Linked DNA regions of Homo sapiens. The protein of the gene in region 1 interacts with the protein of each later gene in a pairwise test. Each region holds a gene or a part of one and is shown in the gene's direction. Other genes may lie near its edges. The genes, in order: LRRFIP2 and FLII.

What was found.
Region 2: the proteins of LRRFIP2 (region 1) and FLII interact in binary tests that used the Homo sapiens proteins (3 or more experiments, as listed by UniProt).

The regions. Positions count from the first base shown.
Region 1 is NC_000003.12:37,159,636-37,175,218, reverse strand, and holds the start of LRRFIP2 (leucine-rich repeat flightless-interacting protein 2), read left to right. Parts: upstream 1-636; 5' UTR 637-680; intron 681-2,192; exon of another isoform or gene 2,193-2,428; intron 2,429-15,583. UniProt on the Homo sapiens protein: May function as activator of the canonical Wnt signaling pathway, in association with DVL3, upstream of CTNNB1/beta-catenin.
Region 2 is NC_000017.11:18,245,885-18,261,467, reverse strand, and holds the start of FLII (protein flightless-1 homolog), read left to right. Parts: upstream 1-2,729; 5' UTR 2,730-2,777; coding exon 2,778-2,840; exon of another isoform or gene 2,841-2,991; coding exon of another isoform or gene 2,992-3,021; intron 3,022-4,448; coding exon 4,449-4,559; intron 4,560-4,870; coding exon 4,871-4,942; intron 4,943-6,204; coding exon 6,205-6,285; intron 6,286-6,613; coding exon 6,614-6,699; intron 6,700-6,785; coding exon 6,786-6,947; intron 6,948-7,285; coding exon 7,286-7,389; intron 7,390-7,748; coding exon 7,749-7,924; intron 7,925-8,009; coding exon 8,010-8,167; intron 8,168-8,911; coding exon 8,912-8,996; intron 8,997-9,321; coding exon 9,322-9,469; intron 9,470-9,651; coding exon 9,652-9,788; intron 9,789-9,990; coding exon 9,991-10,203; intron 10,204-10,450; coding exon 10,451-10,630; intron 10,631-12,059; coding exon 12,060-12,142; intron 12,143-12,266; coding exon 12,267-12,341; intron 12,342-12,584; coding exon 12,585-12,668; intron 12,669-12,746; coding exon 12,747-12,918; intron 12,919-13,434; and 16 more. Other genes in the region: MIEF2 (mitochondrial dynamics protein MID49), read right to left, coding at 307-332. UniProt on the Homo sapiens protein: Is a regulator of actin polymerization, required for proper myofibril organization and regulation of the length of sarcomeric thin filaments. It also plays a role in the assembly of cardiomyocyte cell adhesion complexes.

The DNA.
Region 1 (15,583 bases):
TCATAATGGGAAGAGAATGTGGATGTAGTAATGAAACAAGAGAGAAGGAGAGCGGGGTATGGATGTATAAGTTCTTAATCAGTGTTTAAAATAATATTTTTTCAAGATAACATTTTATTTTGAGGATAAATCTATATGAAAAAGTGCAGTTATTGGAGAATGCAGTGTTGCAAATAGAATTAGTTGGCAGGGACTCCACGGTTGTTGTGGTTTGAATATCTTGCAGCACTAACCCTGTTTAACCAACGTCATGCTCTGTTTAACAGATGCAGAGATAATGACCTAGTATTATAATATGTAGAATAAGAATTTCAGAAAGTGTGATTCATTTCGAAGGTAGATCACTCACTTTGTGAATCATTGCTATGAATCTGAAAATTGAAATAGAGGAAACCTAAGTTCGTATCTGCCTAATGAGATGGCATTCTTTACTCATTTTATAGGAAGTGTTGTATTATGTTTTGTTAGGTCTGTTGCTGGATATTTATCATCGTGAAGAATGGTAATGAAATAAAAGTTGAAGTATTTGCAGAATGCTGGAATTTAGAATAGTTTGTTGGTTTATAAGTGATTGCTTTGATTTTACTCCTTCCCCCCCTTTTTTTTTTGCCAGATGTGGGAAGATAAATGAAGGGGTCTAGATGTAAATGTCAGTGGAAAGGAGAGCTACCATCACTAAGGTATGAAAATGTTCACTGAAAGAATTTGCACTATACAAAATAGTCTTTTGAGTGGAAAGCATCACCCATTTTTGTGATTCTGTCTTTAAAAATGTAGAATGAAACTACATGAGTTATTAAGTTCTGTTCTAGAAGAAAGTGTGTATTGAAGTTGTGATTGGAATGGATTCACTTTAAACTAGAAATAGCTTTTTATTGCTGAAATGTAATTTGCTCATTTTTGACTTTAAAAATGTTAAGTAAAATAAGGTTGAAATCACAGAGTTCTTAATACCCTTACCCTTGTTTTTCTTTTCCTTCTGTTAGAGTTCAGCTGATTTTTACCTTGATTTTCATTTATAAAGAACTTTAGTTAAAAAATAATGGCAAGTCTATCCTGTTGGTCTAGCTTACTAAATTCCTTTACTTCTTTCACTAAATTTTGGCATCTTTTTTTTACTTTGGATATCCATTATATTCAGAGTGTTCCCTAATGTTGCTTTTGATTTTTGTCCAGCTAATTTAAATAGTGACTTAAGAGTTTCAGTTCCCTGTGAACACAGATTCCCTTTTGGAAAATCCCTTTTGGAAATCACCGTAACTGACAGTCTTGATAGGTAAATATGCAAGGGAAACCTTCCTAGGTCAGGATTTAAGTATCTCCGTTAACGAAAGGAAAAGGTAATATGGAGAATATATTTGGCAAAGTATCTCTGTCTCTCAAAACAAAAACAAATCTTTATTAGAAATGAATTTAGCAAGAGGGAGGGAGCAATTTCTTGAAGAACTCTTTGTGGATTGTTTACCCTGTTCCTAGTGTGAGAAGCAACAGAGTTGATGATATATAGAAAAAAATAATTCTTGCAGTGTGCTGGGAATGTTGATGAGGATCATTCAGAAGGAAATAAAATTCTTCTGTCTTTATCTTAGGATCATCATCCATTGCACCTGCAAAATACAGGCTGTTTCGTAGCTTTTTCCTTTTAGGTAGTTGCTTTCTATGTGGAACATCTAAATTGAGAGATGGTCCTTTAATAGGGAAAATGTACTACTTTGTTCAGTCTGCAAATAAAGAATATAATCTGTGATCATCATTTAAAACTCAACTTTTGGAAGCCAAGGCAGAAGGATTGCTTGAGCCCAGGAGTTTAAGACCAGTCTGGGCAACATAGTGAGACCCTGTCTCTACAAAAAAATTAGCTGGTGGTGTGTCCCTGCAGTCCCAGCTGCTTGTGAGGCTGAGATGGGAAGACCACATGAGTTCTGCAGTGAGCCCTGAAAACACCACTGCACTCCAGCCAGGGAGACAGGGTGAGACCCTGTCTCAAGAATAAATAAATGAAACTCAACTTTTTTTTTTTTTAGGTGGAGTCTCGCTCTGTCGCCCAGGCTGGAGTGCAGTGGCGCAATCTCGGCTCACTGCAAGCTCCGCCTTCTGGGTTCATGCCATTCTCCTGCCTCAGCCTACCCAGTAGCTTTGACTACAGGCGCCCGCCACCATGCCCAGCTAATTTTTTATTTTTTATTTTTTAGTAGAGACGGGGTTTCACCCTGTTAGCCAGGATGGCTTCGATCTCCTGACCTCGTGATCTGCCCGCCTTGGCCTCCCAAAGTGCTGGGATTACAGGGATGAGCCACCACGCCCGGCCAATAAAACTCAACTTTTAAAACTTCAGAAGGAAGGAATTGAACAAAACTTGCCTTGTGAACTTTTTGGCTTATAATAAATTATGCTGGACTTCAAAGGAGTCAAACAACTAGGCTAAAAACTGGGTTGATCATGTGTTATACTTCTTCATTAGTTCATTATTCATTTATTTTGATGGGGAGGTCAAGAGATAATTCCACTTCATAGGGAACATATGTATGCATTTGTTTTAGCCTAGTGGTAGGGAGAGCAGTAGATAAAAGTAGAGATAATTAGGGAAGGGGAAGAAATGGCATTATAGAAGGAGAATGCTTATTTCATGGGTTCAGTAGATGTTTATGGGACTTTTAAAAATTGATAAAACATTTTAAAAGGTGGTATATGATGAAAAGAAAGTCTGCTTTCCACCACAAACTCCCAGCCTTTCCTTACCCCAACCCCCCAATCCAAGCAACCATATTCAATCACATATGTCTAGGAGAAATATATTGTATCTTTCATTCTTATCTTTGGCATATGAAGATCTTTTTGTATTTAGCACATATTTCTTACTTTTTTAAAAAAGACCGCATGCCTTGCTAGTGTAGATGAACCATAATTTATTCATTTTCCGTAATTTATTTTACCATTTTCTATTGACAGATATTTAGGTTGTTTTTAGCCTTCTACAAACACTGCTGTAATGAACAATACATATATAAGTCTTTGCATTAGTTAGTATCTATACAGAATGTATTTTCAAAGTGTGACTGTAAGATTGAGACTGAAGTTATGAAAAGTTAAAACTATTTCAATCCCATGTTGGCTTTATTTATAATAGAATTTAACTTATTTCTTGGGCTTGTGGAAGGGGAAAGGAGCTCTTAATTACTTTGTATTCTTTATCCATCTCTCCATTTAAAAAATATTGCAAATTATTTTATAAGGTACTTAAAAACATTTGAGTGTCAGGTGATTAATTTTATTTGTATTGGTAAAAGTAGAAATATTGTGGTTTGAAGACTGGTACTGTCATATAGAAGCATTTATATTTGATAATAGTTAAATGGCTACATCTTAAGTAGGTTGATTGTTTCAGAATTTTATGACCAGTATCAATTAAAAGCATTGTGTATAGTTTAAATTCTTGCCCTGCATAAGTCGGCTACTATATTATTAGTCAGGAAAGAAGTAAATAATCTACCTCCTTTTTTCCTTTACCTTCCACATCCTAATCTATACATAATAAAATAAACCTCTATGGAGTTTGAGATCCAAAAATCCTTTTGCAAACTAGAGTGCTATTTGATGGATTACTTTCTCAAGGCAGGAAGGAGGTACAGATTCAATCTTTATTCTGCAAAGTTTTTGTAAACAGAATAAAGGAGGCTTAGGTTTGATGTTATATAGGTTACTTGTGGCCAGGAGGAGGTTCAGGATTCTTTGCCTTTTTGAAATGAGAGAGACACTAGAGAGAAAAAAAAAAAATTACATACTGAAGGGCTATAGTTTGATGAAGTCGGAACTCATGAGTGGCAGCTTCCCTGGCTTGTGCCCAGGGTCTATTTTGAGACCTTGTCAAAGCTTGCCTGACAGAACCTACCACATAACCATAATCTGGCCTGGTCCTCTTGCAAGTCAGGAAGGCCTGCGGTTTAGGATCAGTGGCAAGCACAGAAGGGGGAGTTATAAAGGACATTTTGCCTTCAGAAGATTAAGGCTAGGTTTTGGGGTGAACAACTACTTAGCCCGTATATCCGAGGATCCAAGTTTTTAGTGCTACCTCCTCCTCCCCTGCTTCTTCCTCTTATTAAGGAAAGCTAAGGAATAAAGGTTTTGTTTGTTTGTGTGTTTGTTTTGAGACAGGGTCTCACTCTGATGCCCACGCTGGAGTCCAGTGGTATGAACACAGATCACTGCAGCCTCGACTTCCTGGGCTCGGGTGATTCTCCCACCTCAGCCTCCCAAGTAGCTGAGACTACATGCATACATCATCACACAGGGCCAATTTTTGTATTTTTTGTAGAAACGGGGTGTCCGCATGTTGCCCACGCTGGTCTCTAACTCCTGGGCTCACATCGTTCACCCACCTTGGCCTCCCAAATTGCTGGGATTACAAGCATGAGCCACTGCGCCCGTCCAGGAGGAAAGTTTTTAGAAAAAGGTGCACAAGAAAGAGCATAGGATTGTGCCAGCATTGATGTTATCTTCTGGTTATATGAGAGTGTTTGCCAAGAATCGGTCAAATGTTTTACATTAGGGAAAAAGCATTATTGTTACTGGCATAGGGAGGGCCCCAGTTAAAATAGCAGTCCAATTCAGAGACCTTCGTATTTGTCGTTAAGATCAAAAGGACTCTTGGAATAATGGACTATGCTACAGGATTATTTTAAGTTCAGATAGATAAATTAGCTTCTTCCCAAATTCTCATTCTGCTTTTCCTGTGGTACTATATAGTATCATGAAGTTATATCTTTAAACTCTTAGTTTGTACTATGTGGTGTCTTATGAAAACCTTGATTTGTTTATACTTAGTGAATGAAACACTTGGGTTTAAAGTTCTTTAACTGATGTCACTTCTTAGGCTAGAAAGCTGTTGAAAGAACTTAGTGTTCCACCCTTAGACCAAGGTTCATGTCACCATATTTAACAGCAGCTTTGTATTACGGTCAAGATTGTTTGAAGAATTCAGCATACAAACTTAATTTACAGATGCAAGCCTGCAGATGGACCTCCCCACCCCCACTTTTTTGCTTTAGATTAGGTTGTGACTGGAGGAAATTTAGTTTTCCTTTGCCTTCAGTTATTTGCAGCTGTTCACATTTATGATGATGAGAATGATGATGATGATAATGTATTTAGGATTCAGTGTGAGGAGAAAAAATAAACTAGTTTTTCTTTCTTCCTTATCAGTTTATTCCCATTATCTTATTTTCCCTTCTCTGTCTCTGCCTTCCTTTCCTCCTCGGGAAAAAAAAGAAAAAGAAAAGAAATAAAAAGCAGCAGTGAAAGAAAGTGGTAAAGAGCTGGGAAAAGCCTTGGAATACATACCAGGGTGCTTTCTCAGAGGTGGAATATAAACACCTTCATTAAAGAATCATGGATTATCTTTTTCCATTGTTTTCATTTTGAACCCTGTATATCTTAGTGTTCCTTCATTACCACATTTTAACTACTTTTGATATAACAGATATCTTTACTGCTTTAGGGAAGCAAATTTAATTTTTATGTTACTGTTCTGAGCATGTTGTTCCTTACATGCCCACTTTCCTAAGTAGAAATATATTAACAGCTAGAAGAAATCTTTTGGCTTTCTGTTTTGTAAGTTAGAGTATACCGTACTGTATGCAGAGGATTAGGATGTTAAAATATTTATTTCCCTGTTAAATGGCTTAAATCATGAACAAACTGAATATATAGCATTGCTTTTTTTAAAAAGTGAGTATCCCAGTTAAGTGACCTAAGGATTATAGGACTAAATGTAGAAAAAAATTCAGCTTTAGATTAGATGTTTTTTCCCTTGTCACAGATAATGCTGTATCTAGGTGAACAGTCAAGGAAATGAGAGGGCATTGTTCTTGTCTTGCCAGATTCATCCTTTGCAATCAAATAAAGTTTGTTTTGTTTTTAAAATTGTGGTACAATATAGATAACATAAAATTTACTCTGTTGACCTTTTTTAAAAATATTTTTATTATGGTAAAATACAGTCATTTGTTGCTTAATGACAGGAATATGTTCTGGGAAATGCATCATTAGGTAATTTTGTCAAGCAAACATCATAGAGTATACTTACACTAACCTGGACAGTATAGCCTACTACACACCTAGACTATATGGTATAGTCTGTGGTTCCTGGGCCATAAACTTGTGCAGCATGTCACTGTACTGAATACTATAACTGTAGACAATTATAACACAGTGGTAAATTTTCGTGTATCTAAACATAGAAAAGATACAGTTAAAATATGATATAAAAGATTAGAAAATAGGCCAGGCATGGTGGTGTGCACCTGTAATTCCAGGTACTCAGGCTGAGGTAGGAGGATCACTTGAGATCAGGAGTTCTAGGCTGTAGTGTGCTATGAGCACATCTATGAATAGGCACTGCGTTCCAGCCTGGGCAACATAGTGAGGCCCCATCTCTTAAAAGGGCACACGTGTATAGGACAGCTCCATTATAATCTTATGGGACCACTGTAATATGTGTAATCCATTGTTGACTGGAACATCCTTATGCAGCACATGACTGTGTACATAACTTAAAATTTATCATTTAAACCATTTTTAAGTGTACAATTCGGTGGTATAAAGTACATTTACATTATTGTGTAACTATCACCTCTATCCATCTCCCTAACTTTTTCATCATCCTAAACAAGCTCTGCCCATTAAACAATATCACCTCATGCCCATAGCCCTTGGTAACCATTGTTCTACTTTTTGACTCTATGAATTTGTGTACTCCAGGTACCTCGTATAAATGGAATTATGTAATATTTGTCTTTGTGTCTGGCTCATTTCTCTTAGCATGATGTCTTCAAGATTCATCCATGTCATAGCATGTATCAGAATTTCATTTGTTTTAAGGCTGAAAAATATTCCTTCGTATGTTTATACCATATTGTTTAATCATCTTTTGATAGATGGGTTGTTTCCATCTTTCTGCTTTTGGGAATAGTGCCACCATGAATATGAGTATGCAAATGTCTGTTTGAGTGCCACATTCAATTCTTTTGTGTATGTACCCAGAAGTGGAATTGCTAGTAATTTGATAATTACCAAATTTCATTTGGTAATTCTATGCTTAATATTTTGAGAAACCACCATACTATTTTCCACAGTGGCTATACCATTTTACATTACCACCAGCAATGCACAAGGGTTCCAGTTTCTCCACATCCTTGCCAACATTTACTATTTTCTGTTTTCTTATTGATTGATTTTTATTTATGTTGAGCCAGGGTCTCACTCTGTCACCAAGACTGGAATGCAATGGCCCGACCACAGCTCACTGTAGCCTTGACCTCCCGGGCTTAAGTGTTCCTTCCCACCTCAGTCTCTCGAGTAGCTGGGAGTACAGGTGTGCACTGCCATGCCTGGCTAATTTTTGTATATTTTGTAGAGATGAGGTCTCTCCATTAGCCCAGGAGGGTCTCAAACTCCTGAGCTCCGCCAGCCTTGGCCTCCCAAAGTGCTGGGATTACAGGTGTGAGCCATTGTTCCTGGTCCCGTTTTCTTTTTTTTTTCTTTTTTCTTTCTTTCTTTTTTTTTTTTTTGAGACAGAGTGTTGCTCTGTTGCCTAGGCTAGAGTGCAGTGGCGCGATCTCGGCTCACTGCAACCTCTCCCTCCTGGGTTTAAGCGATTCTCCTGCCTTAGCCTCCCAAGTAGCTGGGACTATGGGCACCCGCCACCACGCCCGGCTAATTTTCGTATTTTCAGTAGAGACGGGGTTTCGCCCTATTGGCCAGGCTGGTCTCGAACTCCTGACTTTGTGATCTGCCCGCCTCGGCCTCCCAAAGTGCTGGGATTACAGGCGTGAGCCACTGCACCCGGCCTGCTTGTGCCTGGCCCTGTTTTCTAACACAAAAAAATCGATTATTTTTAAAATAAAATCTCTAATAGGGTGGTATTTCACTGTGGTTTTGATTTGTATTTCCCTGGTGATGGGTGACATTGTGCATCTTTTCTTTTTCTCTTCTTTTCTTTCTTTCTTTCTTTTTTTTTTTTTTTTGGAGACAAGATTTTGCTTTGGCACCCAGGCTGGAGTGTAGTGTCACAATCATGCCTCACTGCAGCCTCGACCTCCTGGGCTAAAATGATCCTCCCACCTCAGCCTCTCCAGTAGCTGGGACCACAGGCATGTACCACCATGTTCAGCTGATTTTCTTTTCTCCTTCTGTTTCTTTTTTTTTTGAGACAGAGTTTCGCCCTTGTTGCCCAGGCTGGAGTGCAATGGCGCTATCTCTGCTCACTGCAACCTCTGCCTCCCAGGTTGAAGCGATTCTGCCTCAGCCTCCCAAGTAGCTGGGATTACAGGCATGCGCCACCATGTCCAGCTAATTTTGTATTTACAGTAGAGATGGGGTTTCTCCATGTTGACCAGGCTGGTCTCGAACTCCCAACCTCAGGTGATCCGCCCACCTCAGCCTCCCAAAGTGCTGGGATTACAGGCATGAGCCACTGTGCCTTGCCTCTTTTTTTTTATATTTTGTAGAGACATGTTGCCCAGGCTGGTCTCCAACTCTGGGTTCAAGCAACGTCCAGGCTGGTCTCCAACTCCTGGGCTCGAGCAATACTCCTGCCTCAGCCTCCCAAAGTGCTGGGATTACGTATGTTGAGCCATCATGCCCGGCTGAGCATCTTTTCATGTGACCATTTTTGTATCTTCTTTGAAGAAATGTCTACTTATGTCTTTTATCTTTTTAATTGGGTTTTTGTTGTTGCTTAGTTGTAGGAGTTCTTTATATCAATCCTTTATCAGCTATGTGATTTGCAAATTTTTTTTTATTCCGTGGTTTGCCTTTTTACTTTTTGATAGTGTGCTTTGATGTACACAGTTTTGTTTTTATTTTATTTTATTTTATTTTATGTTATGTTATTTTAAGATGGAGTCTTGCTCTGCCCAGGCTGGAGTGCAGTGGCCCAATCTCGGCTCACTGCAACCTCCGCCTCCTGGGTTCAAGCTATTCTCCTGCCTCAGTCTCCTGAATAGCTGGGATTACAGGCATGCGCCACCATGCCTGGCTAATTTTTGTATTTTTAGTAGAGACGGGTTTTCACCATGTTGGCCAGGCTGGCCTTGAACTCCTGACCTCGTGATCTGCCTGCCTTCCAAAGTGCTGGGATTCCAGATGTGAGCCACCGCGCCCTGCCCAGAGTTTTTAATTTTGATGAAATCCAACTTACCTTTTCTTTTGTTGCTTCTGCTTTTGGTATTATGTCCAAGAAATCATTGCCAAATTCAATATCATGAAGTTTTTCCCATATATTTTCTCCTACGAGTTTTATGGTTTTAGCTCATTTGTTTAGGTCTTTGATCCATTTTGAGTTTTTTCTTCTTTCTTTCTTTCTCTTTCTTTCTTTCTTTCTTTCTTTCTTTCTTTCTTTCTTTCTTTCTTTCTTTCTTTCTTTCTCTTTCTTTCTCTTTTCTTTTCTTTTCTTTTCTTTTTTTTGTGACAGAGTTTCTCTCTTGTTGCCCGGGCTAGAGTGCAATGGTGTAATCTCGGGCTCACTGCAACCTCCACCACCTCCTGGGTTCGAGCAATTCTCTGGCCTCAGCCTCCCGAGTAGATGGGATTACAGGCACCTGCCACCACGCCCAGCTAATTTTTGTATTTTTAGTAGAGACAGGGTTTCACTGGTCAGGCTGGTCTTGAACTCTTGACCTCAGGTGATCCGCCTGCCTTGGCCTCCCAAAGTGCTGGGATTATAGGCGTTAGCCACCATGCCTGACCCCTGAGTTAACTTTTCTATATGGTATAAGGCAGTGGTCCCCAACCTTTTTGGCACCAGGATTCAGTTTTGTGGAAAGCAATTTTTCCATGGACGGGGGTGGGGTGGGTGGGGGGGTTGGTTTCGGGATGAAACCATTTCATCTCAGATGATCATCAGGCATTAGATTCTCATAAGGAACGCACAACCTAGATCCCTCACATGCACAGTTCATTTTTTTTTGTTTTTTTGTTTTTTTTTTTGAGACAGAGTCTCGCTCTGTCACCCAGGCTGGAGTGCAGTGGTGCAGTCTCGGCTCACTGGAAGCTCCGCCTCCCAGGTTCACGCCATTCTCCTGCCTCAGCCTCCCAAGTAGCTGGAACTATAGGCGCTCACCACCACGCCTGGCTAATTTTTTGTATTTTTAGTAGAGATGGGGTTTCACCATGTTAGCCAGGATGGTCTCGATCTCCCGACCTCGTGATCTGCCAGCCTCGGCCTCCCAAAGTGCTGGGATTACAGGCGTCAGCCACCGCACCAGGCTGGAAGACAGTCTTATATAATGTAACATAGTTATGGGAGTAGCATCCTGTATAACCTTTGCCATATTCTGTTGGTTAGAAGTAAGTCACAGGACCCACCTACATTCATGGGGGAAGTAATTACACAAAGGTGTGAACAGTAGGAAGGGCGATTAGGGTGGGGAACCACCTTAGAATTTGTCTACCATAACTGATTACAAAATAGCATGTTTTAGGAACTTTTTTTTTTTTTTTTGAGACGGAGTCTTTTTCTGTCATCCAGGCTGGAGTGCAGTGGCATGATCTTGGCTCACTGCAACCTCTGCCTCCCACATTCAAGCAATTTTCCCGCCTCTGCCTCCCATGTGGCTGAGATTACAGGCGCCTGCCACCATGCATGCCTGGCTAATTTTTGTATTTTTAGTAGAGATGGGTTTCACCATGTTGGTCAGGCTGATCTCGAACTCCTGACCTCAGGTGATCTGCCCACTTCAGCCTTCCAAAGTGCTGGAATTACAGGCATGAGCCGCCATGCCCTGCCATATTAACCAATTTTTGTTTAAAAAATAATGTTATTAAAATAGGAGTATCTTCGGATGGTGGGACTTACTGGTGGTTTTATTGTTATTTTGTATTTCTTCACTATTTCATCCCACTTTCCCTCCCTGCAACATTCCAATTTTGAAATTTTAAATCAATAGTTGGTGTTTTCATTATAATGAAATAAATATTGTTTACTGATCAGCCATGTGGTATATCATACTTGTTTCCTTTCTTGTTTAACTTTGTTTTTTCAGGGAGTTAAAATTTGCCTTTTACATTTACATAATTTTCTGTTTACCTGTTGCTTTCCCCCTAAATGCGCCAACAGATTTTTCAAGAGTCTTCATCTATCTATGTATCTATCCATCCATCCATTCTAGCTTATAACATCAATTTATAAGCTATAAAACGAATTTATTTTGCATAAAATTAGTTGTGAACTATAGAGAAATATAAAACAAAAATACAGTTTTAGGAAGAAGAATACATGAACACCTGTGGTCTCACTACCTAGGTCAAGAAATTACATGTTACATTTATCCTAGAAGTTTCCTCAAGATATCCTTTAATGGCACCCCCTCCCTTCCAGGAAATCACAAGCCTATTTTAACATATTAGTCATTCTCTTGGGACCATTCTCTGCTCAAGCCTGCAATATCCTCCATGTCCATACATGTATTTTTGGCCAAAATTTTTAATTTTGAAAAACCAAAAAGCTCTACTACCTCTCTAAGTCTGTTAGTCAGGATAGGCTGAACTACTTTAATGAATAATTACCAAATCAGTGGTTTTTAACACAAAATTTATTTCTCACTCACATCTTTGCTGTGAGTTGAAAAGCAGTGACAGAGTGGTGGTCTGTTCCACAGAGTCATTGAGGGACTCAGGCTGCTTTCAGCTAGTGATTCTGCCACCCACTGGGGCCTCAGAGACTTTGAATTTCCTGCATCTGGCTGGCAGATGCGAGGACAAAGAGAGGGACTGTGGTAGATTGCATGGAAAGTTTGATGGGCCAGGCCAGGATGTGGTATACATCAGTTTTGTCCGCATTCCACTGGCTAGAACTGAGTCAAATGGCTACACTTAACTGCAAGGAAGGAAAGGGAAAACGCCTTGGTCAACAATGAGCCAATCTCTGCCATGGTATGTATCCCTAAGAAATATATCATTTTGTTTTGGAAAACTGAATAGCAAGCATCAACTGAGGCTGTGAAAGGAAAGGTACATACTGCTGCTATTAGATGAAAGCTCTCAGAAGATAAGCTGAAAAGAGTCTTCCTTGATCTTTTTTGGATAAGTCATTGGGAAAGTTTGTTATTGAGTCTGGAGAAACACAGGCTCCCCACAGTCAGGGAATCTGGCAAAACTAAAGTGTTTACAAGATACTACGGTAAATATCTAGAAGAAATGTGATTGGGAGAGTAGATTGCTCTATGTGGTTTTGCTTCTAAGCTAAGCTTATCACGCTTTAGCTCTCAAGAATAAGGAAAAGCAAAACATGTCTGTGCTGTGAAATAAGTCTTCAGCCCATCTAGGCTCCAGGAACTTTATCAACACGGGGTCAAGACAAACTAAATTCCAATGAAAACCTGGACCAGGCACATCTCATGTTAAATGGATGTGCCCCAAAGGCTGTGGGGATTTTGGTAATGACAGTCCTTCATTATGTCTCTTGAGTCATATTGCTCCAATCTGTAGCTTTCTTTCTGAGATACACCTATCATTCTTCTGGAGGTTCCCTTTTGCCCCTCTTCTGTGTTTGATTTATTTCCTGTATGCTAAGTTTCCCTCTCTGTTGGTTTTTCAGTTTTACTTGCTGAAGCCTATCTTCTAGTAGCTTATTGACAAAGAGTGTAAAAGAGGTAAATTTTTGAGACCTTTCATGTCTGAAAATGCCTTTAATAATCAAGTATGAAAAAGAGGGATTTGACTGGTATAGGCTACTTATAGATTGTCTATAATTTTCCTTCAAGAGTTTGAAGGCATCACTCTTATCATCTTCTTGTTTCCAGAATTACTTTTGAAAGTCTTGAAGCCATTCTTAATCTTTTATGTGTGGCCTGACTTTCCTACCCTGTGGAAGCTTGTAAAGTCATCTTTGTTCTCATTGTTTAAAATTCACTAAGATATACCTTGGTGTGAACTCAGGACTTGTGTTGAACACTCTGGGCCCTTTTAGTCTGGCACCTCATGTTCTTAACTTCTGGGAAGTTATTTTATTAATAATTTATTTTTGTTTTCTCTCTCTCTCTCTTCTTTTTTTTTTTTTTTTTTTTTTGAGACAGGGTCTCACTTTGTCACCCAGGCTGGAGTACAGTAGCATCAACATGACTCACTACAACCTCGACCTCCTGGGCTCAAGCGATGCTCCTGCCTCAGTCCCCACCACGCCTAGCTAATATTTGTAGTTTTTGATAGAGATGAGAGGAGGTTTTGCCATGTTGTCCAGGCTCGAACTCCTGAGCTCAAGGGATCCACCTGCCTTGGTCTCCCAAAATGTTGGGATTACAGACATGAACCACCGCACCCAGCCTGTTTTCTCTTTCTCCAGTTATTTGAACGTTAGTCCCTATGGACTGATACTTTAACCTTATATATTTTTCTTTCTTATTTTCTACCTCTCTCTCTTTTTTTTTTTTTTCTGTTTTCTGTAAGACTTCTTGAACTTTATTTCCCAACCTGAGTTTTGTAAAACTAATTTTTTTATTGAGGTACTACTCGTGTGTCATAAAATTTACCCCTTTAAAGTAGTGACCTTTTCAGTGGTTTTTTAGTGTAGTCACAAAGTTGTGCAGCCATCAGCCCTAATTCCAGAAGGTTTTCATTACCCCTACAAGGAAACTTCATACCATAGCAGTCACTCTCCATTTCCTCTTTACCCGAGACTTTGTGGAAAGCACTAGTCTGTTATACTTTCTGTCCCTATGGATTTACCTATTCTGGACATTTTACATAAATGAAGTTATTCAATATGTAATCTTTGTGTCTGGCTTTTATCACTTCTCATGTTTTCATGATTCAACCTTGTTGTATGTAGCACGAGTCAATACTTTATTCCTTTTTTTTTCTTTCTTTCTTGAAACAGTCTTGCTTTTTGCCCAGGCTGGACGGAGTGCAGTGATGCGATCTTGGCTCACTGTAACCTCTGCCTCCTGGGTTCAAGTGATTCTCATGCCTCAGCCTCCAAGTAACTGGGATTACAGATGTGTCCCACCGTGCCTGGCTAATCTTTGCTTTTTTTTTTTTTTTTTTTTAGTAGATGGGGTTTCACCATGTTGACCAGGCTGGTCTCCAATTCTTGACCTCAAGTGATCCACCTGCTTTGGCCTTCCAAAGTGCTGGGATTACAGGCGTGAGCCATCATGTCAGGCCCAATATATTTGTTTTTATGGCTAGGTAATATTCCATTTTATGGATATGCCGCATTTGCTTATCCATTCATCAGCTGATGGACATTGGAATTGTTTTCACTTTTGGCTGTTAGGAGTAGTGCTACTGTGAATATTCCGTTACAAGTTTTTGTGTGGGCATAAGTTTTCAATTCTCTTGAGTATAGAGTGGAATTGATTATTTCTGTTGTGTTTTTAATTTCTACTGTCATGTTTTAATTTCCAAGATCTTGTATTCTCTGAATTTTTTTTTCTTTTTTTTTTTGAGACAGAGTTTCACTCCTGTTGCCCAGGCTTGAGTGCAATGGCGTGATCTCGGCTCACTGTAACCTCTGCCTCCTGGGTTAAAGTGATTCTACTGCCTCAGCCTCCTGAGTAGCTGGGATTACAGGCATGTACCACCACGCCCAGCTAATTTTGTATTTTTAGTAGAGATAGGGTTTCACCATGTTGGTCAGGCTGGTCTTGAACTCCTGACCTCAGGTGATCCGCCTGCGTCAGCCTCCCAAAGTGTTGGGATTACAGGTGTGAGACACTGCGCCCGACCCTGTTCTCTGAATATTTTAATAGCCCCTTGTTCTTGTTTCATGGCTATAATTTGCCTTAATTTTCTGAAGATATTAATGATGGTTATTTTTGAAGTTTTCTTCTCCCTGCGTAGTTTATTTTCACTAAGTTATTCTTCTGAGTTAGTGGGTTTTCACAGACTTCTTGGTTTGAAAGTAGGTGGGGTTGGTCAATTTTGACCTCCCTCGAAAAGGGGTATATATTTTGGTAGCAGGATGGGTGATTTAAAGGGGGCTGAAGCAGTCCCACATTTCAAAATGCATACTTTCACCTAAGCCCACACTTCCTACTCCCTCCCTGTTCCCATTGCTTACCCTTCCCTTCCCCAGAGCCCCTTTGTCTTCTAGAACTTCTGGTATCCTGGAGAATAGGAGATGAAGTTGAAGCTGAGGTAATAGCCTAGCAATGGAAAGGGGACCTGGAGGTCTAACTACTTAATTAAAGACTTTTAAGTGAATTTTTTTTTTTTTTTTTTTTTTTTTTTTTTTGCGCATAGGGCTTACTCATTGGGCTCAAGCAATCCTCCTGCCTCAGCCCTGCAAGTAGCTGGGACTACAGGTGTGAGCCACTATACCTGGCTAATTTTTGTGTCAAAACCCCAGCTGCCTTTTTTTCCTCCCCTTCTTTTTCTTTCCTTTTTTTTTTTTTTCTTCCAGAAATTGAGAAACTCAGGCTGGGTGCAGTGGCTCACGCCTGTAATCCCAGCACTTTGGGAGGTGGAGGCAGGTGGATCACCTGATGTCAGGAGTTTGAGAACAGCCTGGCCAACGTGGTGAAACCCCATCTCTATTAAAAATACAAAAATTAGCCAGGCGTGGTGGCACATGCCTGTAATCCCAGGT
Region 2 (15,583 bases), on another chromosome or scaffold:
CACCAAGGACTTCTACCTGCCCTGCCAGAGTGTGGGTGCCAGGGGCCCAGTTGCCAGGTGACCAGATGCCTGGAGTAGCTGAAGCCTGAAGCGCTGTGTGACTCAGCCCCGTACACCCGCCCATTCGCCCCAGACTAAAAATAAGACGGTCTCTGGGGCGATCCCAGGCCAACCGGGTGACCCGCCACGGCCCCAGGGCCGGTTTCAATCTCCTCATCGGTGACTCGGGGATCAATACTGCCACCCGCCCCCAGAGAGACCAGGAATCTACTTTGCAAACTGTAAAGCGCTTTAAATACTCCCAACCTGTCTAAATTGGGACTCAGCCCCATCTCTGGCGGGGTCGCGCAGGCCTCAGTCCACAGCCTTCCAGCTCCGAGAAGCAGGAAAGGGCACGGGTGGCTGAAAATAACCCAAGTTTGCGCAGCGGGGCCCTGGAGGCCGTTTGGCCTTCCCTCCTCCGCCAAACCTGCCTGCCCTGGGCCCGGGCGGAGCAGGCCGCGCAGCAGCCCTAGGTGGGCGGGTGACGCCCCGTTCGCAGGATAAACCAAGAGACCGAGAGGGGAAGGGGGCTGGGCTAGGATTCGAACGCTGCCCTTGGTCCCCCAAAGGTCCCCTCCCCGCCTTCCCCAGCGGTGATCGCGGGCCACGCCCCCGATCTGCGTTCCGTCGCGCGCCAAGCCCCGAGCCCGGTGACCCTGGGGGCCGCCCCGCCGCGCTCCAGCTGTACCTGCGTCGCAGCTTCCGCACGACGACCGGAGGAGGCAGCGGGACCACGGCCCCGGAGCTCAGACCAGCCTGGGAATGGAACGTGAAGGACCCTGGAACCCAACGACTAGGGCCCCGGGGGCAGCCGCGGACTTCGCAGCACGCAGACAAGCAGGCCCTAACTCCAATCGGAGCGCTCGAGTCCAGCGCACAGGTGCCAAAATACTGCGCGGTTCAGCCAATGAAGGGCAGGTCCCGCCCCCCAGCCGACAGCCGCACTCCCTCTGGGGCGGGACTCCCTGACGCAGTCTGGATTTAAAGGTGCAGGGCTGCATTCCGAGACCGCGAACAGGTGACGTGACAGGCGACCCTCCAGGACGTCTGTGCGTTGTAATGTGAGCCTCCGGTGTGGAGGAAGCTGTCTGGGCCCCGTTCCTTCTGGGGACCAGGTAGAGAGGCTGCACATGGCTAGAGGCCCGGCACATCCAACCTCTTAGGTCACCTCTGCGAGAGAGTGTCTTGGTGGCCTCATTCTTACCTGTGGGCCTGAGGGGCACAGCGCCTACCCCTGCCACCTGCTCTGTGCGAGCTTGTGTGGGCCATTCTCCACCTGGGCATCAGTTTTTCTCCTGTAAAATGGGGACACTAGACCCCCTCCTCCCCTGCGAAGGATGGTTGGGCATATAACAGCTGTGGCTCATTTATTGGGGTCCTGCTATGTGTCAGCCAGGGCGAGCCCCCTTGAACAGCAAGGACCAAGACGGATGCTTCTCTTCTGGAGCCTCCCTTTGTAGGGGGGTACGAGCACAGGGGTGCTGACACTAAGTGGGAATAATAACCTGGCGCACAAAACAAAACAAAACGGAATAATAACCTGCCACTCACTGAGCGCCTGCTGTATGCTGCGAGCTACACGTGCATTCTTTGTTAATTTGCTCATGGTGACAACCTTAGAAAGTATTTTACAAATGAGGAAACTGGGTAGGGCGCGGTGGCTCACGCCTGTCATCCCAACACTCTGAGAAGCTGATACCAGAGGATCACTTGAGGCCAGGAGATCAAGACCAGCCTGGGCAACATAGCAAGCACCCCGTGTCTACAAAAAGTATAAATAAGGCCGGGCGCGGTGGCTCACGCCTGTAATCCCAGCACTTTGGGAGGCCGAGGCGGTTGGATCACGAGGTCAGAAGATCGAGACCATCCTGGCTAACACGGTGAAACCCCGTCTCTACTAAAAATACAAAAAAAAAAAAAAAAAAAATTAGCCGGGCGTAGTGGCGGGTGCCTGTAGTCCCAGCTACCCGGGAGGCTGAGGCAGGAGAATGGCGTGAACCCGGGAGGCGGAGGTTGCAGTGAGCCGAGACTGCGCCACTGCACTCCAGCCTGGGCGACAGAGCGAGACTCTGTCTCAAAAAAAATAAAAAATAAATAAAATAAATAAATTTAGCCAGGTGTGGTGGCCTGCGCCTATAATCCCAGGTAGTCGGGAGGCTGAGCCCAGGAGTTCGAGGCTGCAGTGAGCTATGATCACACCACTGCACTCCAGCCTGGGCAGCAGAGCAAGAAGACCCTGTCTCAACAAAACAAAAACAACACATGAGGAAACTAAGTCCAGAAGCAGGAGAGCTAGGACCCGAGGATCCAGGTGTCTCACTACCACCGGTCAGCCAAGTACAGGCACTTCCTGGGCCTCTGCGCCCCGGGGCCGAGGTTTAGAATCTCTCTGAGGTCAGGGCCAGCTTCATGTGCTGCAGCAGCGCAGGTGACGGTGCCTCGACCAGCGGCCGTTACGGCCCCTGCCCTGGGGCGCTGGGACTTAAGCCTGGAGATCGTGGAAGCCTCCAACTCCAGCACAGGGGGGGCCCGCACTCCTTGGTGCCTCCGCAGTCTTCGAACAGACGGGGAAACTGAGGCCCTAAGAGGCCTAAAGCCTACACTTCCCCGCGGAATGCGGCGGGCGCGGGCGGGTTAAAGGGGCGGGGCCGGCGCTGGCCCAGCCCGCGGCTCCCCCCAGCGCCCTCGCCCCGGCGCTCCCTAGCCCGGCGCGGCCCGGCAGCGAGAGCGGCGCCATGGAGGCCACCGGGGTGCTGCCGTTCGTGCGTGGCGTGGACCTCAGCGGCAACGACTTCAAGGTGAGCCGGGCCGGGCGCGTGCCGGGCCTCCCTGCAGGCCTTCTCTTCCGCCCGGCCCGCTTGGCCTCCGCTTCCTGTCCCGCTCGGCTCCAGGCCCTGCGTGTCCCAGGGACTGCGGCCGGGGCGGGGTGGGGCTCTCCCCTGGCCAGGAATGGACCTCCGAGGCCTCCGCCCAGTGCCTGTACGGGGAGACCGAGGCTGGGCAGGCCGGGGACGGACGCTTGGGCTCGGAGTCCCGCCGGGGGCCCGGCCGGGAGCCCCCACCCCGCGTCCGTGTTCTCGGTCTAGGCTGGATGGTGGCCTGGGGATCGGGCGAGCCTCCCCGCCCCTCTGAGGTCACACGCCCAAGCCAGGCCCTGACTCAGGGATGGCTGCCCGGCTGCCCAGGGGCGGGTGTGGAGCCGACTCATCACTGCCCTCTCCCCGCCACCGCCACCCGCCATACTGTGTGATCCTGGGCCTCTCAGATCACTTCCCCTCTCAGAGCCTAGGCTTTCTCAGCCGGTGAAGGGGCTTAAAAGTCTCCTCCTTGGACGCAAGGAGTATAGTGAGATTTGTTGGTGTGGAGAGTGTGTCAGGCCGGTGTGCCAGGTGCTGGGTGGCAGTTGTCTGAGCAGCTGCTGGACTGAGAGAAAAGGGACCGGAGCCCAGCCCTCCGCAGCCAGTGGGTGGGGCGGCGGGGTGGTTCCAGGACTCAAGAATGAGACAGGCATTGCCTGACCAAAGGGGAAGCAGAGAAAGAGAGGGAGGGAGAGCTGGCTGGAGGGTCAGCCTCACCTTCAGGGTGGGTGACTGGCAGGGTCGGCCTGGGTTGTTGGTCTGGGGCTGGGGCCGAGGAGGCAGGTTTTTCCTGCGTTTACCTGCCTGTGTACACACCTTTGACCCCAAGTACAAGTGGCTACACCACTTTTCCCTGACCCCATCCCCACCACCCTAACCTGGGGTCCCCGTTCCTCTTTGCTGAACTGGGAGAGTCCGAGTCACCAGCTGGGAATGTGGCGCTAGGGGGAAAGGAATATCAGCCGCAGGCACTGAAGGCACCTACTGCCCCAGACTTGGTGCCACAAGGGCTGGAGGTGCCGAGGTGGGCGTTCACACACCAGGGGAGTGCAGTGATGCTGGCCTGCCCTGCAGGGTGGGGAGCCACGGTCTCCGCAAGCAAGGGTTTGACCCTGGCCGTGAGTTGCCAGTGTGCTGATGGCAGGATGAGGGCACAGGTGGCGCCTTTGCAAAGGCTTGGAAGGGGGATCCCCCACCCCAGGCAGCCAGTCAGAGTGTGGAATGCTAGGTGAAGGAATTTGAGCCGAGCTAACCACAGAGCCGGATGCTGGGCTTTCACCTGAAACAAGCCAGTTTTGTCCTGGCCCTCCTGGGGCCCAGAATCCAGTAGGAGAGACAAATCTTAGGCCAACACTTTTGTCACGGGGGGGCTTAAAATTCCCATTCTATGGGTGAAGAAATTGAGGCACAATGATGAAATGACTTGTCTGTGTTCTCACAGATGGTGAGAGTTGGTTCTGTGGCTCCCCAAAGGCTCCCATGGGCTGGAGGAGCCATAGAAGGTGGTGAGCAGGGGCTCTGTGCTTCACCTTGACATCCTTCCCCCAGGGCGGCTACTTCCCTGAGAATGTCAAGGCCATGACCAGCCTGCGGTGGCTGAAGCTGAACCGCACTGGCCTCTGCTACCTGCCCGAGGAGCTGGCCGCCCTGCAGAAGCTGGTAAGGGGGTTTGGGCGGGCAGGGGAGGGTCCCTGTGGATGAGCCAGGTGGGCAGAGCCTGTGGAGAAGGCAGACAACTTCTCCAGAGAGAGGAACACCGACAGCTATGAGCAGAGCTGGAAGAAAGGGAGTGGGCACCCTGTCCAGGGAGGTGTGCAAGAAGAGGCCGGGTGAGTGAGGGAGGGAAGCTGCAGGGGTAGTTGGGCCAGTGTGGCTGAGGCCTTCCTGGATGGTGCAGAGTTGTGGAGGCAGGCAGGGACTCTGGACACCCCACCCACCCTGCTGAGCCTGTGCTCCCCATTCCGGCCCAGGAACACTTGTCTGTGAGCCACAACAACCTGACCACGCTTCATGGGGAGCTGTCCAGCCTGCCATCGCTGCGCGTGAGTGCTGGCCGGGAGGCCACCGAGCTTGGGGTTGGGGCCAAGGTCCGGTCAGGGACGTGAAGCCTGGGCTAGACACCAAGCTGGGCCAGCATTTCTGCCCACCTCCGTGTCAGGCTCAGAGGCTCAGGTGTCACAGAGGGGCCCTCTCATTAGAGGTTACAGCAGTGCCCTGTGTAAAGTAACCCATGTGGATCAGAGAATTCCATCAGGAAAAAGGTAAAGAAATCCAAAATCTTACCAGCCGTTATGGACAATAACTACAGTAATAATAGCCAAGACTGGCTGAGCAATGTTCCCACTATTCTGTTAGGATTTTTTCATATGCTCTAGCCCTCCACTAATGTTGCAGAAGAGAAACTTGGCCACCAAGGCAGATTACTTGCCCCAGGTCACAGAGCCAGGCAGTGGTAGAGCTGGTGTTGAGTGGGGTTTGGCCGGGAGCACCGTGTACCTTCTACCCAAGACTTGAACGTCCCAGAACATCAGGCCCTTGGCCAGACCCTGTAGGCCTCAACGAGGGCCATCCCATCTGAAGTCAGAGCCCTGGAGATGTTTAGGGCACAGCTTCTGACTTGGACTCTCTGAGTTCAAAGCTGGGCTTTGCCACTTCCTGGTGATGTGACTTTGTACAAATCGCTTCTACCTTCTGGGCCTCCTCTGCAAGTGCAGTGGTTGGGAGGGGCAGCAGTGACCCCGTGAAGCAGCAGCAGGGTGCCGCACAGGCATTCAGACTGGAGAAGTGGCGGGGCAGCTCCGGTGACTCCCGTTGTCACTTGGAGTCACGACACCATTCTCTGGCCCTGTTCCCTCATGCTCAAGCTTTCTGCATGTCTGTAAGGTATGAGGAGGTGTCAGTCTTAAGTTAGGGAGAGAAAGCAGACTTCCTCTCCATCCAGATTCTGATTTCTCTGTGGTCCACTTCTCTCCCTCTGTTCTGAAAACCCTGACTCAGACCTTACCCCTATCTCACCTTCTGGAATTAAGAAGAAGAGAAATGGTTTGAACAGAAAAGGTTCCCTGAGGGCCCTGTGCTGGGGCTCCGGGGCACATTTGAGCTGGGCTTTGAGGCATGAATAGGAGCTCACTGGGAGGCTAGGAAGAGCGCTCCAGGAGAGGGAGCTATTTGATCAAAGGCCAGAGGTGAGAGAGTCCTCAGGCCTGGCCTCTGGTGAGCTGCCTGAGGAGGTGTCCCTCTCTAGACTCTGTTCCTTCCTGAGAGTGGAAGCCAGGAATTATAGACTCTTATGGTTTATTCCCAGGCCATCGTGGCCCGAGCCAACAGTCTGAAGAATTCCGGAGTCCCCGATGACATCTTCAAGCTAGATGATCTCTCAGTCCTGGTCAGTGGCTACCCACTCACCTGGCCCCTGTGCTAGCCGGACCATTCAATCCCCACTCACTATAAAAGTCCCTGGGGCCATTGTTATCCCATTTTGCAGATGGGAAAACTGAGTCTTGGAGTGGATAATACCTTGCCTGAGGTCACTTTTGGAGTCAGATCCCTAACACAGGCACTCTTCCTCCCAAGTCCCTGGCTGTCTCCCTTTGGCCCTGAAGCCCCCTCATCTACCCCCACACCCAACTCAGTGCCCTGCCTGATCCCCAAGCTTGGCAGACGCCTGGTGGGGAGGAGACTCCCCTGACCTGGGTCTTGCCCCTTCTACCCAGGACTTGAGCCACAACCAGCTGACAGAGTGCCCGCGGGAGCTGGAGAACGCCAAGAACATGCTGGTGCTGAACCTCAGCCACAACAGGTGCCAGGCCAGTGGGGGGCAGGGGGCAGGTGGGCCCTGTGGGGTGGCTGGTGCTGACTCAGGTGGCTCCTGCTCCCCACCCGTAGCATCGACACCATCCCCAACCAGCTCTTCATCAACCTCACTGACCTACTATACCTGGACCTCAGCGAGAACCGCCTGGAGAGCCTGCCCCCGCAGATGCGCCGCCTGGTGCACCTGCAGACGCTCGTGCTCAATGGAAACCCCCTGCTGCATGCACAGCTCCGGTGGGCGCCCCCTCGGACCGCACTCCTGCAGAAGCCACCCTGAGGAGTCTGGCCGGGCCCCTTCACTTCCCAGGGCCCTAACCCTTCTCCCTTAGGCCCAGCCATCCCTCCGTGCAGGCAGCACCCCTCAGTGTACAACCTCCTAAGTATCATGTCCACCTCTCAGTCCTGTCTTCCCGCTTACACACCCCGCAACCACCCTTGGGCTTGTCCCTTCAACCAGATGTGACCTCACACCTACCCTCTGGGCCCTGTGCTTTTGGTCCTGCCCTGCCAAGCCCCACCCTTAACACTCCCTAGGTGGGCCCTGGCCCTGACCACTCACGTCACCCTGGCAGGCAGCTCCCAGCGATGACGGCCCTGCAGACCCTGCACCTGCGGAGCACCCAGCGCACCCAGAGCAACCTGCCCACCAGCCTGGAGGGTCTGAGCAACCTCGCAGGTCAGGCAGCCCCAGGAGCCCCTCTGAGCTCGGGCCCCCTCTGGGCCCTCTTGCTTCCTTGGGTGGAAGGGGTTGAACCCTGCTCTTCGGACCAATACCCAGAGGGAAAAGGCTGGAGTTATGTTACAGTGACTTTTGCGATTATGATGATGCCTTAACACTGACTTTATGCCTAGAAAACTCCCCCGCAACCCCCATGTGAGGGAGTTTGTCCAAATGGAGAAACTTGGGCGCACAGCAGTTGTCACTTGCCTAAGCCACACAGCTCAGAGGTGGCAGAGCTGGGGTTCACACTAGGGCTGGCTGCCCTGGCACCTGGTGTATGGGCCCCAGCTGATGCACCCCACCCTGCACCCCAGACGTGGATCTGTCCTGCAATGACCTGACACGGGTGCCCGAGTGTCTGTACACCCTCCCCAGCCTGCGCCGCCTCAACCTCAGCAGCAACCAGATCACGGAGCTGTCCCTGTGCATAGACCAGTGGGTGCACGTGGAAACTCTGAACCTGTCCCGAAATCAGCTCACCTCACTGCCCGTGCGTCTGAGGCCCTCAGTAGGGGGATGGGAGGAAGGCCGTGAGCCTGGCCCTGACCTCCCACCCCTGCCCGTTCCCCCTCCAGTCAGCCATTTGCAAGCTGAGCAAGCTGAAGAAGCTGTACCTGAATTCCAACAAGCTGGACTTTGACGGGCTGCCCTCAGGCATTGGCAAGCTCACCAACCTGGAAGAGTTCATGGCTGCCAACAACAACCTGGAGCTGGTCCCTGAAAGTCTCTGCAGGTGCTGGGCAGGGCTGGGGCTAGCAGAGGCACTTGCAGCACAGAGAACCCCGGGATCGTAGTCAGAGCCCACCTTGTGGTCTGTGCAAGTCAGACAAAATGAAGATGGGTTAATTCACCTTTTCTTTTCTTTTCTTTTCTTTTTTGTTTTTGAGACAGAGTCTCGCTCTGTCGCCTGGGCTGGAATGTAGTGGTGCAATCTCGGCTGACTGCAGCCTCTGTCTCCCAGGTTCAAGCGAATCTCCTGCCTCAGCCTCCTGAGTAGCTGGGATTATAGGCGTGCGCTACCACGCCCGGCTCTTTTTGTATTTTTAGTAGAGATGGGGTCTCACCATGTTGGCCAGGCTGGTCTTGAATGCCTGTCCTCAAATGATCAGCCTCCCAAAGTGCTGGGATTACAGGTGTGAGCCACCACGCCCGGCCCAGTTAACTCACCTTTGTGGATGAAGACCACAGTCCCATGCCAGCCATTCCCAACTTGAGCCCCTGAGAGCACCCTTCGGGGGGCACTGTTAGGGACAAGGCCACATGACGTGGGAACGCAGTGTTGCTTCTCTCCCCTTCTGGAGATCACAGTGCCCGTAACATGGTCTCTTGGCTCTGAGAAGTCCTTCAGGCAGAGAATGGAGACCCCCGCCAGTTCCTCTGACCCTACCTGCCTCCCCTCCCCAGGACTAGGGGTTTTCTTGCCCACTTCCCCTTGTCTGTCACCTGCCTGAGGCCCTGGCTGGCCCTGTCTTCACAGGTGCCCAAAGCTGAGGAAACTTGTCCTGAACAAGAACCACCTGGTGACCCTCCCAGAAGCCATCCATTTCCTGACGGAGATCGAGGTCAGGCATGCTGGGTTTGAGAGGGCTCAAGAGAGACAAGCAAGGGGTGTGCCCTGGAGCAAGGGGGACCCAGCAGAGGCCTCCTGAGGGAGGTGGCCAGTGCCAGGGTGCCCGTGGGGAGAAGGTGGGCCCCACCTCCCTGCATCCAGAGTACATTCCACAGTCTCATTTAAGCCCCCAGCCAGCCCCAGAGGTGGGTGGGAGGAGAACCCAGTTCCCTGACCTCTCAGCCCTGGCGGCTGCAGACAAGAGCAAGAAACTGGATTGGTGTGTCTGGGAGGTAGGACCCAGGCTCAGTGCCGGCTCTGCTCACCCTATGGGGCAGGTCCTGGATGTGCGGGAGAACCCCAACCTGGTCATGCCGCCCAAGCCCGCAGACCGTGCCGCTGAGTGGTACAACATCGACTTCTCGCTGCAGAACCAGCTGCGGCTAGCGGGTGCCTCTCCTGCTACCGTGGCTGCAGCTGCAGCTGGTGAGTGGGGAAAGGTCTGGCCTGGGAACGGGGGCTCCTCTCCAGGCCTCAAATGACACATCTGTAAATTGGGTGGCATACAGCTTTCTGGACCCTGGTGGGTGGAGTTGGCCCCTGGTTGGTCGCATGCCCAAGGGGGCAGCAGGCCCAGTGAGGGCTCAGCTGTTTGCCCCTCCCCTAAGCAGGGAGTGGGCCCAAGGACCCTATGGCTCGCAAGATGCGACTGCGGAGGCGCAAGGATTCAGCCCAGGATGACCAGGCCAAGCAGGTGCTGAAGGGCATGTCAGATGTTGCCCAGGAGAAGAACAAAAAGCAGGAGGTGAGCCAGGCCAGGGTTGGGACAAGGCAGGGAGCCTTAGCTTCTGCTGAAGGCCGACCCTGGCCTTGACCCTGGCCAAGAGGGACGGGGGGTGCTGGGCAGAAAGAACAGCTGTGCAAAGGCCCTGAGGTGTGGGTAGCAAGTAAAGACTGGCCTGAGTGGCTTCACAGAGTCAAGCCGTGCTCTGTGACTCTGCCCCCAGGAGAGCGCAGATGCCCGGGCCCCCAGCGGGAAGGTGCGGCGTTGGGACCAGGGCCTGGAGAAGCCCCGCCTTGACTACTCCGAGTTCTTCACGGAGGACGTGGGCCAGCTGCCCGGACTGACCATCTGGCAGATAGAGAACTTCGTGCCTGTGCTGGTGGAGGAAGCCTTCCACGGCAAGTTCTACGAGGCTGACTGCTACATTGTGCTCAAGGTGAGGGCTGGGCATGCTGTTAGGGGCCATGTGGCCCAGTACCTTCCTCTAAGATGGCTCAGTCCCCAACTCCAGAGTTTTGTTCAGGGAGGCCAGGTGGGAGGTGGGCAGGCTGCAGGAGGTGGTCCAGGCACAGGGGCAGTACAAAGCCCCTGGGGCTGGGAAGCCTGTGCTGTTCAGAGTGGCGTCTCCGGGGTGGCCGGAAGACCAGGATGAAAGCTGATGTGGCCGGTGCCTTGGCTTCCAGACCTTTCTGGATGACAGCGGCTCCCTCAACTGGGAGATCTACTACTGGATTGGCGGGGAGGCCACACTCGACAAGAAAGCTTGCTCTGCCATCCACGCTGTCAACTTGCGCAACTACCTGGGTGCTGAGTGCCGCACTGTCCGGGAGGAGATGGGCGATGAGAGCGAGGAGTTCCTGCAGGTGCCAGCCCGTTAAAATTGGGGGTGGGCAGAGTGGGGTTCCCAGGGAACTCTGGTGCAGGGGCAGTGGGCCCAAGGCAGGTAGGCAGAACAGGTGGGCAGGCAGGGAGCTGGGGTTAAAGGGGGTGGATCAACGATACTGTGCGGGACCTAAGGCAGACCGCAGGGTGAGGTCTAAGGTGGCCAAAGCCTGGGTCAGCAAAGGAGAGTTCTGGAACGCGGGGCAGAATTCAGCCGGGCAAGGATAAGGGTACAGGCTGGGCATGGGAGCTAGACCAGTGGGCTGACACAGGGGAGCTGAGAGTAGGGTGGAAGGGGTGTTGCCAAGAGCAGTGAGAAGGCAGGGCCAAAACCTGTTATTAGGAGGCAAGGACACACCTGGATGCCAAGGAGGTGGGGCCAAGGGCGGGACCAGAGTCCAGTCTTGAATAAATTACTGAGCAGTGTTAGCCGCCAGCTGGTTACACCTAGACATATGTTCGCATGTACACACACGTGGAGTTTATGCACACACCCCACCCGCCCCGAGTTTTTTTTACCCACATTCACCCAGGTTTCCACTCTTCCATGAACCCACTTGCTTGTGTACCCTGATATGCGTGCATCTAAACATGCTGCTGGCATCTTTACAAACGTGGGTGAACGTGTCCATATTTTTCATACATCCCAACACCCCGACGTGTGTATGTTTATAGACACAGATGTGTATGTTTTATTTTAGACAGACTCTCGCTTTGTTGCCCAGGCTGGAGTGCAGTGGCACAATCTTGGCTCACTGCAACCTCCGCCCCCAGGGTTCAAGCGATTCTCCTGCCTCAGCCTCCCAAGTAGCTGGGATTACAGGCATGTGCTACCACGCCTAGCTAATTTTTGTATTTTTTTAGTAGTGATGGGGTTTTGCCATGTTGGCCAGGCTGGTCTCGAACTCCTGACCTTAGGTGATCCACCCGCCTTGGCCTCCCAAAGTACTAAGATTACAGGCATGAGCCACCGTGCCCAGCCAGATCTGTTTTTTTTGTTGTTGTTTGTTTGTTTGTTTGTTTGTTTTAAGACAGAGTTTTGCTGTTGTTGCCCAGGCTGGAGTACAATGGCACAATCTCAGCTCACTGCAACCTCCGCCTCCCAGGTTCAAACAATTCTCCTGCCTCAGCCTCCCGAGTAGCTGGGATTACAGGCATGCACCACCACGCCTGGCTAATTTATGTATTTTTAGTAGAGACAGGGTTTCTCCATGTTGGTCAGGCTGGTCTCCAACTCCTGACCTCAGGTGATCCACCCACCTCAGACTCCTGAAGTGCTGGGATTACAGGCATCATAGATTTGTAGCACTCAATTCACCTGTATGCAACTCTGTACCCCCACCTGAGGGGCAGTGGTTGGTGGGGGAGGGGGCAGCTCAGTGATGAAGAACCACACCCTCACACACACAGGTGTTTGACAACGACATCTCCTACATTGAGGGTGGAACAGCCAGTGGCTTCTACACTGTGGAAGACACACACTATGTCACCAGGTGAGGGTGTGTGGGCAGTGGGGGGTATGGACCTGGAGTCTGCTGGCAAGGGGTGGAGGGGAGGGTGTTGGGGCTAAGTTAGGCCCTTGGTGCCTACACTGAGCCACTCTTGCCCTGCGCCCAGGATGTATCGTGTGTATGGGAAAAAGAACATCAAGTTGGAGCCTGTGCCCCTCAAGGGGACCTCTCTGGACCCAAGGTGAGCCCCAACAATGTGAGGTGGGGGTGCTTCATCCTCAGCCTCCTCCCCACCAGTGGGGGCAGGTGTGGGCCTCTTAGAAGAGGAGGCCCTCTAGCAATTCCTGCCCACGAGCTTGGCGGGGGGTCCCTGGGGCTTACCCAGAAACCCCATAGTGAGGGATTTTTTTTGGTGGGGTCAGGAGCATGGGGTGACCATTGCCCCATGCACCATCACAGCTCCTTCCTGCCCCTTCTTGTCCAGGTTTGTTTTCCTGCTGGACCGAGGGCTAGACATCTACGTATGGCGGGGGGCCCAGGCCACACTGAGCAGCACCACCAAGGCCAGGTACAAGGACACCGTGGGGTCTTTTGTGTGAAGGAAAGGGGTGTGAGCCTCGCTGATGACTTTGCATCCTGCTCTCAGGCTCTTTGCAGAGAAAATTAACAAGAATGAGCGGAAAGGGAAGGCTGAGATCACACTGCTGGTGCAGGGCCAGGAGCTCCCAGAGTTCTGGGAGGCACTGGGTGGGGAGCCCTCTGAGATCAAGAAGCACGTGCCTGAAGACTTCTGGCCGCCGCAGCCCAAGCTGTACAAGGTGAGCCCTGCTGCTGAGGCCCACCTTGGCCTCCCAAGTTCACCCACCGACTGGGGGAATGGACTACACACCGATGTAGTTGGCTTTGGGCTCCATCTCGACTTTGGTGGGGAGAGGGTGCCACCTTCTGGACAAGGAACAGTATGAGCAAAGGTCTGGAGGCTGCTTTTGAGAAGTAGCCTCACGGAGTCTTTCCAGGATGGTGGGGCCGTAGGGGAGACAGAAGCACCTAGTGCCAGGGCTGGGAACCTTGGCTCAATTATCTAGATTCTTGTGAACAGGAAAGGGACACGTTAATTAGAAATGGCATGAAGGGCCTGGAGAGGGCAGGCAGGGAAAACTCCATTTAAAAGCCCTTCTGAAAGGATATCCCTAAAAAGACCTTGAAGGGGAGGGGGAAACAGAAGCAGTCAGTGAGCCACGCTGCAGGGCAGGGCTGGTTCCAGAGCAGAGGGCTGTGTGGGTGAGGTTCCTGTCTCCAGATCCCTTCCCTGCCATGCTCATCCTTCCTGCCAGGTGGGCCTGGGCTTGGGCTACCTGGAGCTGCCACAGATCAACTACAAGCTCTCCGTGGAACATAAGCAGCGTCCCAAGGTGGAGCTGATGCCAAGAATGCGGCTGGTAAGAGATGCAGGAGGAGGGCGTGGGGCCAGATCCCTCCCCGTTGGCTGGGCTTTGACCTCCAGACTCCCGGTCCGCAGCTGCAGAGTCTGCTGGACACGCGCTGCGTGTACATTCTGGACTGTTGGTCCGACGTGTTCATCTGGCTCGGCCGCAAGTCCCCGCGCCTGGTGCGCGCTGCCGCCCTCAAGCTGGGTCAGGAGCTGTGCGGGATGCTGCACCGGCCACGCCATGCCACGGTCAGCCGCAGCCTCGAGGGCACCGAGGCGCAGGTGCGCTTGCAGCTTCGGAGGCCCCTCCCCAGGATCCTTCGCACCCTGACATGCCCTGACCCCTGTGGCTTCACTACCTCCCTACAGAGCTGGGCCCAAACCCACCTCCTCTTTGCTGACTCTGCCCAGGCCCCGCCCCCTCTGCAAGCTGCCCCTCCTATTCCTACCTCCGTGTCCGAGGCCCCGCCTCCCAAGCCCCGCCCTAGATCTCCCTTGGGTCCCGCCTCAAGCCTCGGGCTACTTCCTCCAACTCTAATCATGCCGCACCCCTCATGGTTAGTTGATGGCCTCCCTGGCAGGTGTTCAAGGCCAAGTTCAAGAATTGGGACGATGTGTTGACGGTGGACTACACACGCAATGCGGAGGCCGTGCTGCAGAGCCCGGGTCTCTCCGGGAAGGTGAAACGCGACGCCGAGAAGAAAGACCAGATGAAGGCTGACCTCACTGCGCTTTTCCTGCCGCGGCAGCCGCCCATGTCGCTGGCCGAGGTGGGGGCAGGGCCGGGACCGGGGCGCGGGGGGGGGGGTGGGGGGCAGGCCGAGGGCGGGGCCTATGCGCAGAGCGCGCTCAGACCTGCCGCGGGGCGGGTCCCTCTCACCTGCAGGCGGAGCAGCTGATGGAGGAGTGGAACGAAGACCTAGACGGCATGGAGGGTTTCGTGCTGGAGGGCAAGAAGTTTGCGCGGCTGCCGGAAGAGGAGTTTGGCCACTTCTACACGCAGGACTGCTACGTCTTCCTCTGCAGGTACCACCTCAGCACTCCCTTCCCCAAGTCCCTCCCCTGGTGCTGGGGGCTCGAGCCCCTGCTCACAACCTTCCAACCCGGCAGGTACTGGGTGCCTGTGGAGTACGAGGAGGAGGAAAAGAAGGAAGACAAGGAGGAGAAGGCCGAGGGCAAAGAAGGCGAGGAAGCAACCGCTGAGGCAGAGGAGAAGCAGCCAGAGGAGGACTTCCAGTGCATCGTGTACTTCTGGCAGGGCCGTGAAGCCTCCAATATGGGCTGGCTCACCTTCACCTTCAGCCTGCAAAAGAAGTTCGAGAGCCTCTTCCCTGGGAAGCTGGAGGTGTGCCTGGCAGCCCCGCGAGCCCGAGGCCAGGCGGAGGGGTGTGGTGGGGCTCAGACCCAGCGAAGGTTAGGCTCCCGAGGGGCAGGTGGGGGTCCAGGGAGCTGCCCCTAACACTTCCACATCCCCAGGTGGTACGCATGACGCAGCAGCAGGAGAACCCCAAGTTCCTGTCCCATTTCAAGAGGAAGTTCATCATCCACCGGGGCAAGAGGAAGGCGGTCCAGGGCGCCCAACAGCCCAGCCTCTACCAGATCCGCACCAACGGCAGCGCCCTCTGCACCCGGTGCCTGGCTGGGGGAGGACGCAGTGGCGAGCAAGCGTCAGGGAGCCAGGCCTGAATCCTTGCTGATGCCCCATCCCTTCCACAGGTGCATCCAGATCAACACCGACTCCAGCCTCCTCAACTCCGAGTTCTGCTTCATCCTCAAGGTGGGGTTGTGGGTGTGAGCCAGGACTCCGTGGACCAAGGGGTGGGGTGTTTGGGGGCTGAGTCAGCTGCGAACACCCCCACCCCTGCACACTCCCCAGGTTCCCTTTGAGAGTGAGGACAACCAGGGCATCGTGTATGCCTGGGTGGGCCGGGCATCAGACCCTGACGAAGCCAAGTTGGCAGAAGACATCCTGAACACCATGTTTGACACCTCCTACAGCAAGCAGGTCAGGAGGCGGGCGGGCAGGCGGGCACACACAGAGGAGCCAGGGCAGG